4 linked regions of the Homo sapiens genome follow. The protein of the gene in region 1 purifies or fractionates together with the protein of each later gene. This does not show direct contact. Each region holds a gene or a part of one and is shown in the gene's direction. Other genes may lie near its edges.

Evidence for each region.
Region 2: the proteins of SLC37A1 (region 1) and TMEM59 purify together in Homo sapiens (affinity purification with mass spectrometry; one large-scale study listed by BioGRID and IntAct). This does not show direct contact.
Region 3: the proteins of SLC37A1 (region 1) and WRNIP1 purify together in Homo sapiens (affinity purification with mass spectrometry; one large-scale study listed by BioGRID and IntAct). This does not show direct contact.
Region 4: the proteins of SLC37A1 (region 1) and ACBD3 purify together in Homo sapiens (affinity purification with mass spectrometry; one large-scale study listed by BioGRID and IntAct). This does not show direct contact.

Annotation. Positions count from the first base shown.
Region 1 is NC_000021.9:42,575,318-42,580,539, forward strand, and holds part of SLC37A1 (glucose-6-phosphate exchanger SLC37A1), read left to right. Parts: intron 1-449; coding exon of another isoform or gene 450-569; exon of another isoform or gene 570-639; intron 640-4,153; coding exon of another isoform or gene 4,154-4,418; coding exon 4,419-4,483; intron 4,484-5,027; coding exon 5,028-5,043; 3' UTR 5,044-5,222. UniProt on the Homo sapiens protein: Inorganic phosphate and glucose-6-phosphate antiporter. May transport cytoplasmic glucose-6-phosphate into the lumen of the endoplasmic reticulum and translocate inorganic phosphate into the opposite direction. Independent of a lumenal glucose-6-phosphatase.
Region 2 is NC_000001.11:54,043,205-54,046,704, reverse strand, and holds part of TMEM59 (transmembrane protein 59 isoform 2 precursor), read left to right. Parts: intron 1-918; coding exon 919-1,013; coding exon of another isoform or gene 1,014-1,061; exon of another isoform or gene 1,062-1,222; intron 1,223-3,179; coding exon 3,180-3,332; intron 3,333-3,500.
Region 3 is NC_000006.12:2,782,393-2,784,922, forward strand, and holds part of WRNIP1 (ATPase WRNIP1), read left to right. Parts: intron 1-1,013; coding exon 1,014-1,169; intron 1,170-1,931; coding exon 1,932-2,011; intron 2,012-2,530. UniProt on the Homo sapiens protein: Functions as a modulator of initiation or reinitiation events during DNA polymerase delta-mediated DNA synthesis. In the presence of ATP, stimulation of DNA polymerase delta-mediated DNA synthesis is decreased.
Region 4 is NC_000001.11:226,155,742-226,159,241, reverse strand, and holds part of ACBD3 (Golgi resident protein GCP60), read left to right. Parts: coding exon 1-58; intron 59-3,500. UniProt on the Homo sapiens protein: Involved in the maintenance of Golgi structure by interacting with giantin, affecting protein transport between the endoplasmic reticulum and Golgi. Involved in hormone-induced steroid biosynthesis in testicular Leydig cells.

The DNA of each region.
Region 1 (5,222 bases):
CTGGCCTCCCAGTGGTCATCAGTGTCCTGGTGTCCCTCCTGCAGCCATGCTGTCAGACGGCGGGAGCGGCCCCAACTTCTTTCACCTGAAGGGATGGGAGAGAATAAAGGAGCAAAGAGGTTGCCAGTGCAGACACTGAGTCGCCTTCTGGCTTCTGCCCCCTTTTCTCTGGGCTCCTGCTTCTGTGCCCTCCTGTGTTGAGAAAGTTTGAGGTTTTCCCCTGGGTAAGGAAGACCAGTGATGATGTCACAGTCACATAGATGTGCAGCTGTGAGGGGTGCATACACATCTTTACAAGTCACCTGGCCACAAAGTCCCCAGACCCACAGCCATGCCTCTCCTCTCACTTCACCAGACAAAACCTTAGGCTGATCCCAATAAAAATGAGTTGAGAATTTCAGAAATATCAACTCACTCAATTAAATGAAAGTCTTATATTTTAATTCCAGGAAATTCTAAAACTCAACTTCCCCACCACATACAAAATCAAATACCGACTCTCAACCTATGAACTTACTAGGTTTAAATGGCTGTTCTTTGGATCATCTGTGGGTTCTTTTAATGCCTGAATGTTCTAATGAAGCCTCCAGATGGATTTCCACTAAGTAGCAGTAAAATTCCTGTCATTACAACTGTTCAGAGAATCTGAAATATCTTCTTTAGAACTATCTGGTAATATATATTGAAAATTGTTTTGATGCTTAGCCAAACTCATAAGAAAGTAAAGGAACTCCCCAGGAGCCAGAATTGTAAAGGCAATATAAATACACAAGCTCAGGAATCAACGGGTTGGGGTGGTTGTGCCCACACTGGGTAAGAGACAAGGCGTTAGGCTGGCACAAGATGAAGATTTGGAACTGGAGACTTCGTCATAGAGCCAGGACCCTCGAAGAGCCATGCTTGCAGTGAAAGAGTATACTAGATGATATCTGCACACTGGCACAGGAAGACAATGGGAATCTGCCCATCTTAGCCAGATTAGGGGGAAGAAATCTCCCTTGAAAATTTTTAGCCATAGACCTCCCCACAGTCAGCTTTAATCTTTGAGCTTATATAAATATATTTTAAATGAGCAAAGTTGGTCCTTAGGCAGTAATACAGAAGCAAATAGGGACAAATCTCAACCCTGCAGCATAGGATTTCTGTAGCTAACACCCTACAAAAGATGAGCTCACAATCCAAAATAATGAAACATAAGGAAGCAATCCACATTGAATGACAGTAACAGACATAAAAAATGGTGGAATTGGACTCCCCCAAAACTGCAGATAAAAGAGTTATGTAAACTAAAAATAAATATATGCAATGTTACTAATGACATAAGAAAAAGGAACTGACCTCATGAAAAAAAGAACAAGACACTATTGAAAAGACAGAGCAGGCTTCAAAAACAACCAAACAGGAGTTATAGAAATGAAAAATGTGATCTTTAGCCTGGAAAAAGACTCAATGGATGGGTTAGAAAAGCAAATTAGATACCGCTGAAGAGAAGATTACTGAAGTGAAATATAGATATGAAGAAATTATCCAGAATTCAGCACAAAAAGAGAGATGGAAAATATTAGAGAGAAATTAAATATAAAATGGAGGACCAAATGAGATGGCCTAAAGTTATCTGAAAGTAATTCCAGAGGAAGATGATAGACTGGATTTGAAGCAATATTTTAAGACAAAATAGCTGAGAATTTTCCAGATACATGAAAGACAAACATTCTTAGATTCAGGAATCAAATGACTTAGAATTCTGTACCTAGATAAACTTGCACACAAGAGTAAGGGTGAAGTGAAAACATTTTTAACCAAAGATGCTCCCAGCAAAAATTGCTAAACAATGTATTTAGAGAAGGAAGATAGATCCAGAAGGAAAGTCTGAGATGCAAGGAGAAATGCAAGCAAAAAAAAAGTGATATTCCTAAGGATGAATCTAAAGGAGTATTGACCATATAAAATAGGGGCCAGCTAACTGTGGCCTATTTTTGTGTGATCCTCCAGCTGGGAATGGTTTATATTTTTAAATATGTCTTTAAAAAATCAACAAAAGAATGTGCAACAGAAACCATATGGCTGCAAAGCCTGAAATATTTACTATCTAGACCTTTACAGAAAAAGCTTTCTGACTCTCAGTTTAAAACAACAGCAATAATGACTAATTTGGGCAATATAAAAAAGAACTGAAATACTGAAAATGTAAGGTACAAGTGGGACAATGAGAGTTCCAGTACACTGCAGTTCTTATGTTGTCAAGCCAATAGCAATAGAATGTGTAACCTTCAAGGCAATACAGGGAAATGAAGACTTAATCTAAGAGAACCTAGGGTCAGGGGAAGCATAGAAAAAAACAGGGTAAATACAGAAATACAGAGCAACATGGATGAAAATGATCCCAGCATGCCAGCAACACAGTGACAATAAATGGACTTAAACTCATCAGTTAGGAGCAGAGATTGTCAGGTTGCTTTTAAAAATACAGGCACTGGTTATTTACAAGAAACACACCTGCTACACTGGAATTCCGAAAAGACAAAAGTAAAAGAATGGGAAACTACACGACAGGTAAATAATAACCAGAGGAAGCCGGATTTGCTGCGTTGGAAGAAAGAGACCTAAAGCTGAAGCACTTGGGAGACGGGGGCTTGTCGCAGTGGAGAAGGAACTATACCAGGATGTGCAGCAGGTCCGTGAGCTTGAGTTGGGCTTTTCAAACCTAAGAACTAGACATACCTTTTTCTCTTCACTGATCAACATGCTTTTTGGTATCTTTTCACCAAAATAGACAAGTGTTTCCTCCCGAGTCTGGAGCTGAGAACCTCCATGATCTGAGCAGGTGTCCTGGGGGGCCAGAGGGCACCATGCTTCCTGCCTCACAACACACACTGATGGCCAGCTCCAGGGCCTGCAGGACTGCCTGGCGCACGACCGAAGGCCTCAGGTCTCCAGTGCGTGTCGCCTGGGCTCCTGGAGTTGGTAGGGCCCCTCCTTGTTGGTCATTCTTGCATGCGTGAGCCAAACACGTGGGCATGTTTTGAAATTGGATCTCTGTTCTTCAGAACTGTCACCATTTACAGTTCATCCCGTACCCACAGATAACACTTGCTACTATATTCTTCATCTTTTTCTCTCTTAATGATCAGCTTTTCATAATCATAGGCCTCTTCGGGCTAGCACTTTTCATACATCACACTTGGCAGGATGTAGATGTGGGTAAGGTACCAGCTCAAACACAATAAGCCTGTGCCGGTAGTTGGAGCTAGAGGTTCAGATTCACACAGATGGATTTATTTAACAAAAATCTTGCTATTGTCACCAGCACTATTGTTCGTACCTGCCGTGTTCCCACGACCTTTACCACCTAATTGTCGCAAACACCTTTCATGCACCAAGCAGAGCAGCTGGATGCATCTTATCTGTAGGAGGGGCCCCTGTTCTCTCCAGCTTGAACTCACCTCATACAAGGGACTCCTAAGCTCCTACTTGAACCACAAGCACCTAAGAAAATAGAAGAGTTTCTGCCTTCTAGAGCTCTGGCCTGAGGCTTGGTGGTGGGGCCATGTGTTTGGTTTTTAAGTAGCCCCTCGAGACCCTCCAGCACCCCTTCCCTGCCTCCCCTGGACCAGTGATCCACCCTGGGTCTGAGGGCATCTGCTGCCCTCTAAGAACGAGGGGCCACGTCCAGGGAGAGCCCTCCTGTGGGCTGATGTCCCACTTGGGGAGAGACTGGATCCACACTGGAAAATGCACTAGTTAAATTGGAGGTAGCACAATCATTTGTCTGGATTTGTAGGCTGGCGTTGAGCCCTCAAACATGTGAAGGGCACGGAGTTAAAGCTCTGGGTCCGGCGAGGAGCCAAGGCTGAGGCAGTGATGTTGGTGGAAAGCCCTGGGCCCCGGCCAGGCCTGGCCTCCAAGGGGCTCCCAGTGGGGTGCGGCTGTCCTGTGACAGCCTCTTCAGACCCCAGGGCTGGCGCCAGAGGAAGTGCTCACCTGGCTTTAGAGTCACCTGAGAAGCTCGCAGGTCCACCCACTGGGCCACCCGCATTATGGTCCTCTTGTCTTTATTTCCTTTTTCCCACTGTGGACATTTCATGATTGGATTAATTTTAGTCTAAACGTGACTTGAACCCAGAAGTAGTTCAGGCTGCATCTCTCCCAAAAGCCTTGTTTTCAGGGCAGCTCCTGGTTCTTCGTGGGCCTTCATCAGACAGCCCTGCCCTCATCAGACAGCCCTGCCCACAGGAGCCCAGGCCTCCGGCTGAGCATGCAAGCCCCGCTGCTCTTGCAGGGAGGCCACCCCAGGGAAGGTGCTGTGGGGAGAGAGCCACCCGCCCAGGCCTTGCGGGCCAGGTCCTCATGGTGCCCACGGCGCGGGCCGCCCTGTGCCTGCTCCAGTAACAGGTGGGCTCACCTTTGTTTTGGTGCAGTTCCTGATCCGCCTCATACACAAGGAGCTGAGCTGCCCAGGGTCAGCTACGGGGGACCAAGTTCCGTAAGTCCCACTCGGGCCCTGTCTCCGTGCGTGAAAGCCGGCTCCAAAGTGCCTTCTGTCCTATCTGCCTTCTGCACCTGGCTTTCCTGAAAGAAAGAAAACGCGTGGCTTATCTTTTCACGGCACGCCACCTTCACTCTCACTTTTTCTTTTCTAATAAATACCTCTGGATGGGTTAGTGGTAATCTCTCCTCAAACCCTGAGTGGAAAATGTGAGGGAATTGCCGTCTTTGGCATTCTGTTGGAGCTGCAGCCCCCCGAGCTCTCCTTGCCTTCCTGCTCGCCCCCTTCTCCCTCCCTCCTCTTTTCCCTCCCCCCTTGGTCCTCCCTCGCTCCCTTCTCACTTCTTCCTGGCCCCCAGAAGGCTGCGGGAAAGGTGCAAGGGTTTATCCAGCATCCAGCACCCCTGCAGGAGAGGAATCCCTGCTGGGCCGGGAGGGCAGCTGGCTCCCCATAGGATTTGCACATGGTGTGTGAAGTTCAGCATCTCTTGCTGAGCCACTGCTGGCTGTTAGAGCAGCTCTTCTTTCAACCTTTCTTTCAGATTTAAGGAACAGTGACACCCCACCCCAGTCCCGTGGAGGGGGTCTGGGCCCACCCTTCACAACTGCCTTTCAAGGACAGTTCAGACAAAGGGCCCTGCATGGAAAGAGTGACCTCCCTTTGCCTTTTGCACACGCACCTGGAAAAGACACAGAAGCCAACCTGAGAACCCCTGGTGCTATTTTAAAGGAGACAT
Region 2 (3,500 bases), on another chromosome or scaffold:
TCTCCACTCGTTACACTGTTTATTAGTGTAGAAGGAGGCACCTTTTCCCCTATCACTATGCCATGGCTCACATACAGTCTTCTTTGATATCATAACCGTATTTTTGCGGCTTAGTCTCCTAACTGATCATCTTTATATATGCATAATGCTGTCCAGTTTATTATCTAGCACTTCTGAGAAGTGTATTACAAATGCATTACTGAGTTGGGAAAAAATAAAATTAGGATAGTGGTAAAATGTTATATCACAAGAAGGAAATGGATTTAATGAACTAAATGAGAGTATATCTGGTAGAGACCCATTTCAACATTAGAATTATCTGCTGTAGAACATTTTCTAGTTCAATTTTCTTAGACTTTCAGATGTTAGGCTGATTGTTTTATTTTTCTTTTGCCATGTGCATACCCTTACTTCTTAACTGAGTGATCTGGTTCTTAACAATAATACCTTATATTTGTATAAATCATTAAAATATATTATTTCATTCAACCCTATACAATAGGTTGTGGTATTTCTATTTTACACATATAGAAATCAATAGTCAGAGGTTAAACTGCTCAGCTCAGGTCACACACACCAACAAATGATGGAACTAAACCTTTTTGAGTGGCATCTTCAGGATGCCAATCCAGTGCATTTTCCACCACACAAGGATCCTCTTATATGAATGTCATCATGTGGCCAGAGCCTGGGTGTATAATTAATAGATTTGTATCTAAAACATTTGACTTGTAGGAGGGAGACAATATGGAGTTCTGTTAAAGATACATTTCCTACTACTATATTACCAAATTTGGAAATTCACATTGATGAAACCTTTTTAAGTATAAAAATTTTTTTAATAAAATGCCAAATCCTTTTCTTTCCTCTTTCCCTTTCTCTTTTGTTTCTTGTAATTTGACTATTTTTCTCTTACAGCATGTACAGAAGCATATTCCCAATCTGATGAGCAATATGCTTGCCATCTTGGTTGCCAGAATCAGCTGCCATTCGCTGAACTGAGACAAGAACAAGTACGAAACAATACTGCCTTTCAAACTAGCCTGCTTAGATGGCACTGACTTGTATTGCTTGAAGTGTTTATCACCCACTTGATCCTATTTTAGTGTTATATTTTATATTTGGCTTTCAGCAAACAAAATTAGTTTGCAAATAGAAAAGTCAGTTGAATAATTGCTTTTGTATAATGCTTTACTATTAAAAGTTATGCTTACGTTCATAATCTTATTTTGTTTCTTCTCACATTCCAGTGAAGATATTATCCTCATTTTACATATGAAAAAACCAAGGCTCAGAGGAATTATTTCAGAGTTCTTTTTCTCCATCCCAACTCCCATTGGACAGTTGCCATTGCCTTAACTCAGATAATCATTTCTTGTCTGTATTTTTAAATTAACTTCCAAACTGTTTTTCTAATTTAACCCTGTCTAACTCCATCCTTTGCTGTGTCCAGATTTTTTTTTCTAAATTTCATCATGCCATTCTCCTGTCTTATATAATCAGTAGCTCCCAATTACATATAGATTTAAGTCCAAACTGTTTATCACAACCTACTCCTGATTACTGCTCCAATGCCATCTCTTAAAATTCCTGACAAGGGAATTTCATACTCTATTCTCCAGACATACTGGGAAAAGTTTCTTAATTTTATTGATTTTTGCACAGGAAATAGTCACATGTACAAACTCAAAAGATAAAAAGAGTATACATATAGTGAAAAGTCTCCCACTCCTGTCTCTTAGCCACTCAGTTTTCCCTCTTGAATGTAGCCAAGGTTACTAATGCATAGATATGTTATGCGTATACAAGGATGTACACATATATTTTGTAAATATAAGTATACATAAAGAGCTTCTACTAATTTTTTTCTACTACATAATATTCTGTGTAGATATATTATAATTTTTTAGGCAGTCCCTTATTTGTGAACATGTAGGTTGTTCCTAATCTTTTTCTTTTGTAAATGATACCTATTTTGCACATTTGTGAGTATACCTGTAGAATAAAATCATAGGGCTAGAATTGCTGAGTTAAGAGGTATATGCATTTTTTATTTTTATGTTTTTTAGAGATGAGGATCTCACTATATTACCCAGGCTGGCCTCAAGCTTCTGGGCCCAAGTGCTACCATAGATACCACTGCACTCCAGCCTGGGTGACAGAGCGAGACACTGTCTCAAAAAAAAAAAAAAAAAACAGATGAAAAAAGAAACAAAGCAGAACCAAAGCTATCCCTAGAGTTTAGTAAATGGCATCCCACACTTGTGCTTTAGAGAGGCCCAGTGCTGCTAAAGAAGTCAAGAAATCAGAATTGGAGGAAAGATGATATCATTTGTCAAAATCCTTTTTTTTTTTTTTTTTTTGTGATGGAGTCTCGCTCTGTCGCCAGGCTGGAGTGCAGTGGCATGATCTTGGCTCACGGCAACCTCTGCCTCCCTGGCTTAAGGGATTCTCCTGCCTCAGCCTCCTGAGTAGCTGGGACTACAGGCGTGCGCCACCACGCCTAGCTAATTTTTGTGTATTTTTAGTAGAGATCGGGTTTCACCATGTTGCCCAGGATGGTCTCCATCTCTTGACCTCGTGATCCACCCGCCTCAGCCTCCCAAAGTGCTGGGATTACCGGTGTGAGCCACCACGCTGGGCCATTAAAATCTTATCAGTAGCTTACTACATATATTCAGCCCATAAATACTCCCTTCACCCTGTCGTGTTGTCAGATGTCTACCATTTTATGTATATATTCTTCTGATTGATTTTTTCCGTTCTCTTTTCCATTGATGTTCATTATAGCATGATTTATTCTTGATGAAAGCATTAAAGATGAGAATGATACGATTTGTCCCTTCCCGTTCTACCCTTAAGGCCTTGCTGGTCCTTATTTAATTACATCTTAAGAGTCTTCTTATTTTTGGACTTAATTCAAAAGCCTGTTATTCTGATAGAGGTGACAGGTAGCTAGTAAGTGTGTTTGGTGGCAAATTAAAGTATCCTTGGTTTTTAAGCTTTACCATAATGTGCATAGATAACTAAGAGTTTACTCTAATGCTATTGATTATGGTAGATGTATTTAATTGTTTGTATCCTGTCCCAATAAGGATTGGAGTAATCTTGATTATATTGTTCTTTTGAATATACATATATAAAAATAATATATTTCTCATTATTTATTTTATTTTTAGCTTATGTCCCTGATGCCAAAAATGCACCTACTCTTTCCTCTAACTCTGGTGAGGTCATTCTGGAGTGACATGATGGACTCCGCACAGAGCTTCATAACCTCTTCATGGACTTTTTATCTTCAAGCCGATGACGGAAAAATAGTTATATTCCAGGTGACAACTGAGCTTCATGGATTCATCTAAATACTAACAACAGTAAATGTATATGTCTTAAATGAGTGTTTCAGCATAGAACCATACTCAGTCACTTACAAATATTTATCATCAAATAATAATTACTTATTTGGCCCTACATTAAAATATTAGACATCAGTTTTATTA
Region 3 (2,530 bases), on another chromosome or scaffold:
TTTCCCCTGTGGGAGGCCAGCATCTTCGCTTGCTCTCTTCTCCACCTGAAGACCAACTGTCATCTTACCAGCGAGCTCAGCTGCCAGGGTTTGTGGCTGGCGCCAGTCGTATTGTGGACATGGGCTTATGCTGAGCACAGACCAGGTGCTCCTCTGGGAGGAGTGAGACTCACGGGAACACCATCCTCCGCTTTCTCGTGAGGAGGGTGCCCCCTCCTTGAACTTACCTAAGGGACGATGGCCAGAGAATAGTGAAATGTATGCAGGTGCCACTGCTTAGTTCCTGAGAACTGTTTAGCTGTCATTTTTTTGCCCTTAAATATGCCTTTTTTTAAAGCACATTTCACTGATTTCATGTGAATCTAGGGTAAAAATGGAGTAGTAAGACCAGGCGGTGAGAGAGTGGGCTTCCGTCCACTTCAGGGCGGAAGCTGGTTAGTCCACGTGTCGGTCCTTCTGGGACCCTGCCACACAGGTGTCCCCACACCAAGGCTGGCAGAAGGAGGTTTAAATGACCACAGGCTTCGGATATCAGAAAGGCAGCTGGAAATGACACTGAGGAACAGATGGGCTATAACAGCTGCCCTTGCCACTTGGCTCTACATCCTCCTGGCTCCGAGCAGGCCCACCGTTGCTTTTCCTCCAGTAGATGGTGGGCCACGGGATAGAGCCAGAACAGAAGACTCGTCCCCCTCCACTCTTGTCTCTGGCAAATCCACCAGCTGGGAGGACCACCTTTCCTCCCTCCTGCCTCTGTGCGTGTGCGTGCACTCCATGTCGACAGCCACAGGTTTCTGCTGCAGCAGCCTCTTCCCCTGAATAGGACTGGGATTAAGCCCCAGCAGCTGGTGCACCCCACTCAGAGCACGGTTAAGGCAGCTGCCCAAACCTCTCCTCGGCTTTCTCAGGGCCTTTATTCGTTCAGGCTTTCTGGAAGTCAGCTGGCGGAGGTGAAGATGGCTTGGGCGCCCCTCCTGTGAGCTCTGTGTGAGTGGTGCTCTTTGTGATGTCAGGTGAGGAGCATTACAACTGCATCTCCGCCCTGCACAAGTCCATGCGGGGCTCAGACCAGAACGCCTCCCTCTACTGGCTGGCTCGCATGCTCGAGGGAGGAGAGGACCCACTCTACGTGGCACGGAGGCTTGTCAGGTTTGCCAGCGAGGACATAGGTGAGTGTGATGGGAGGGTCCCGGAGTCCTATGTCCATGAGGGTGGGGAAATGGCTAACAGTTACATCGTGGCTTTTTTTTTTTTTTTTTTTGCAGGGCGGGGTGGGCGGGGGTAGCAGGAAGAATGTCTCAGGGCTATGTGAGACTGGCAGGAGAAGATAAGACTTTATGCCTGAGCTCAGTCGTTTATTTCCTGGTGTATGTGCTTTTGAATGTTTATGTTCATAAAGTCACCATTTTCTGTTTCCTCTTCGGGAATGTTTTTACTAACATGAGTGGCTATTCAGAGTATTGCAATAGATGAGCTGCTTTTAAATTTGCTTTAAGTCAGGTGTTCAAGGTTTTCTTTGGACAGCTCCCAAGGTAGAAATGGAAGACTCTAGACACTATATGAAGAAAAAGATCAGGAAAGCTCTCCTCTTCTTTGGTCTTAGGGGATGTTTTGTTTTTAGTGTTTCCATCCTGGTGAATGTCTCCATAGCCTTCACTTCTTATGTTTGTTATACAGAGACTCATGTTTTTCTAGATGCAGAGTTTTTATCCACAAGGAAACAGTTCTTAACACCACACAGTAACCACTCTCAATATTTCTTGCATAAGTTCATGGGATCAGAGACTAGAGCTAAGTCAGGCTGTTTTGCTACATGGGATTGTTTTGGTCACCAAGTGTACAAGCAGTGGTGGTCTGTGGTCGCCTGCACATAGGCCAGGAGGACAGTGTGTGTCATGACTGAAACTCTCCTTTGTCTCTGTGTGTGGCAGGTCTGGCAGACCCGTCTGCGTTAACACAAGCGGTTGCTGCCTACCAAGGCTGTCATTTTATAGGCATGCCTGAATGTGAGGTAAAGTAATCAGCTCATTTCTTGCAAATCACTTCTTTTCTCTCTCGTGCTCTGTCCCTTTGTAGATTTGAATAAATGTCCCTCCTTCACCATTGGTGTATTGGACCCACTGAGTATGCTGCTTGGCTTTGGAATTCCAATTGTAGACTCTTAGACTCCTAGAGAGGGAAACCTTCTGTGTCAACGAGGTCATGTTTCAAACTGTTCTCGGGATTCCGGGGTTCAGAGCACATGCTCCATATGTTCCAGGGAGCAGAAAGGTTAAAGGAGCTGAACAGCAAAGCCTCTGCAAGTTCGCCCCCAGAGCAGCTTCATATTCATCTCTTTTATATATTGGGGGCTTAAGAAAAATTTAATGTAGTAAAAAGTCCTTCAGTTAAAAAAAAAAATGAAAACCACTCACCTGGTTTGCCTCTCGTTTCACCTCATGAGAATTTCTTCTGTCTGTCGTAGGTGGTTATCCAGACTGTAGGCGCAAAAGGGGGATAATAAAAGCATGTGGGGATCTTCTCAGAATTA
Region 4 (3,500 bases), on another chromosome or scaffold:
GCAACACTATCAGCAGTACATGCAGCAGTTGTATCAAGTCCAGCTTGCACAGCAACAGGTACGATAGACAACCCTAGAATTCAGCCTTAGAGAGAGTTTTTAGTTTCATTGGAACCCAAGTTCTTTTTTAACAGTCGCAAATGAATTTTGCATTAGTTAGCCTCTAAGGTGTAAAGTAACTTTTGGGTGATCTTTTAGGCAGACTTGAGAATTGCACAGGCAATTGTGAGAGAAAATATGTGTTATCGAAGCAACCGATGATGTTATATTGTCATAAGGGTATTTGGGAGTTGTATGGGTTGAGTGTCTTTACTGTGAGTCTGGCATAGACCCTAATAGTGGTCCTGGAACATGAGGACCTGAGTAACTAGCCATAGTTCAGAGATGTCCTTCAGGCAGTGCATTGTCAGAGGCTTGGACAGCCTCCAGTGGGAGGACTCCCCTGCCCTAAGACCATGGGCTGGTTCTGCAGAGCTAGATTGGGTCCATTTGACTTTGTGTTAGGCACCATAGTTAGGCAGTGCTCATAACAGCACATTGCTATTCCTCCTCCAACTGCCTGCCCCCAAGTATTTTGCTTCCACATAGGAGAGGTTGGTTTAGGTGAAAGAACATGGGACTGGGAGTCTCATAACACTTGGATTCTCTTTGGGCTTTGACATTACCTTGTTTGATCTCAGACAAGTTATTACTGCTCTGATTGTTCTGCTCTTTCTTTCAGTCCGTAACAATAGGATATAAAATCAAAGCACCTGTCCTGTTAACCTCACAGGACTATCAGAGGAGTCAAATGAGAAAAGAGTTACCCTGTGAACGATTTTTGTACTTGTAGAAGACACTAATTTTACATTCATTTTTTACATCTTGTGCAGGCATAAAATACCTCCTTAAACTTAACGTAGCTTAGTTTAACTTACTTAATTTTCACTTATAAAGCAGTTACCACCTGTCAAAAAATCTGAGTGAAGAAAAGTGTTACATTATAGTTGCTCAGCATTTCTTACTGCATGAAATAATCTTTGTTGTTTTTGCCAAACTCTTTAAATTCCTTGAAAATGTGTATTCTTACTAAACAACCTTTTCTCCTGAGTCTTTGGCATCAGTTAGAAGTTAAAAAGCACTGCAAGTTTTTTGTAATCCTGAAGAGGAGGAAAAGATGCCAAACCAGAGTTTATTCAAGATAATAAGTGGTATTTTTGAGAGATTTATTCTCTCTCCTCTGAAGCCTGTTTCTACTTTAGTTTCACTTCCATTTTCCTGCTTCTTTGATAGGCAGTGAGATGATTTTTAATAGCACATACACTCTGTCCTGTTTATAGGTTGCTATCATTTAATGAGAAGAAAGTCAAATAGGACAAAACCGCAAATCTTTGAAACAAAACTAGAAAGCCATAATGGAGGCTGGGCATAGTGGCTCATGCCTTTAATCCCAGCACCTGGGGAAGCCAAGGCCATAATGGTTGCTTGAGGCCAGGAATTTGAGACCAGCCTGGGCAACATAGGGAGACCCCATCTCTTAAAAAAGAAAAAAAAAATTAGCTGGGCATGGTGGTGCACGCCTGTAGTCCCAGTTACTTGGGAGGCTGAGGCGAGAGGATCACTCGAGCTCAGGAGTTTGAGGCTATAGTGAGCTGTGATGGCGCCACTACATTCCAGCCTGGGTGACAGAGTGAGACCCTGTCTCGAGGAAAAAAAAAGCCATAGGCCAGGTGTGGTGGCACATGCCTGTAATCCCAGCACTTTGGGAGGCTGAGGTGGGTGGATCACTTGAGGTTGGGAGTTCGAGAACAGCCTGACCAATATGGAGAAACCCCATCTCTATTAAAAATACAAAATTAGCCTGGCATGTTGGTACACATCTGTAATCTCAGCTACTCGTGAGGCTGAAGCAGGAGAATCACTTGAACCCAGGAGGGGGAGGTTTCGGTGAGCCAAGATTGTGCCATTGCACTCCAGCCTGGGCAACAAAAGAGAAACTCCGTCTCAAAAAAAAAAAAAATCCATAATTGAGATTAGAGTGATCAAACTCAGTTTATCAAATTTATTGGTTGCTTCTGAGAAGAGAAAAGGAAAGAGACTGGGGAAGGAACAAAGGGAACTTTACTCCTATAAAATATTAATTTTTATATAAATAGCAAAATGAACACATTTGTTAATTTTGGGGTGTAGATACATTTGTGGGTGTTTGATACGTTGCTTTTATACCTTTCTGTGCTTTTTTAAACTTCCTAATAACAGGAAGAGAGTATGGAAATATATCATTACAATCTATTACATGTAGTACAATAGATTCATGGTCGGGGGTTCCCAGAGAAAGTTGTTTTTCTGCTAGAGCCTTTCAAGAAAGGATTAGTGGAGATGAGGGACCATTTGAGCTGGGCCTATTGATCATCAAAAATGCTCTTTTGCTTTCCTGTCATGCAGTGAATGTTCTGAGTGTGCTGACTTGTTTTGATTTTAGGTACTTTCTCTGGAAGCTAGTATCCCTTCTAGAAAATTGATGTGGAAATTACTGAAAATCCAGACCTTGGAAGAAGATATCTTAAAATCTTAATTGTGTTATTAACCTATATTAGCAGCAAAGAGAAGCATTGCTATTCATTTAAGTAATTGGCTTGTAAATGATACATTCAATGAAATGTGTGTAGAGATATGCCAAAATATATCATTATCCCTACCCCATGGGATCATAAAGGCTTTTTCCGTGTGTGTGTGTATGTGTGCGTGTGTGTATTTTTTTTCCTGCAGTGAACATATACGTACTTGCTTATTTGTGACAGTGTTTTAGTTTAAAACATTGCTTACATGCCCAAATGCTCATCAACAGTAGAATGGATAGATTTTATCTTTTTATGATGGAATAACTTAAAAGTAATGCAAACAACAAAATACAATTACTTGTGACTCTATAGATGTAGCTTATAAAAGTAATGTTGAGTGAAGGTAGCCAGACATAAAAAAGAATGTATACTATACAACCCATTTCTTTAAAGTTTTAAAATAGGCAAAGCAAATCTATAGTGTTATAAGTCAAATAGTTGTTACCCTTCAGGGCAGGTGCCCAGAAAGGGGTACCAGGGAATATTCTGGATGCAGATACTGTCTTGATCTGAGTATTAGTTACATGGATGTGTTTGATTTATGAAAATTGATCAAGCTGTGTAATTTATCATTTGTACACTTTCTACATGTATGTTGTAATTCAATTTATAGTTCCCCACCAAAGTTACCTAAGTAATACTCAGATATTTGAAGTAGTATCTGTCCATATTGATTTAGAAGAGGAATGTCCCAAAATAGTCCTTTGGATTTAAGATGTTTTTACTGCCATTTTGACTCAGAGGACATTTTGATTTTATATTTATGAATACACATTTCAATCATAACTATATAAACAGTGACAAATTTTCATTGAGAAAATATTTTTAACCTCAAATTGCATCCTGTAAGTCTGTTTGATTCTTAGGTCAGCATTTTACAACACGATTAACAATTTTCAA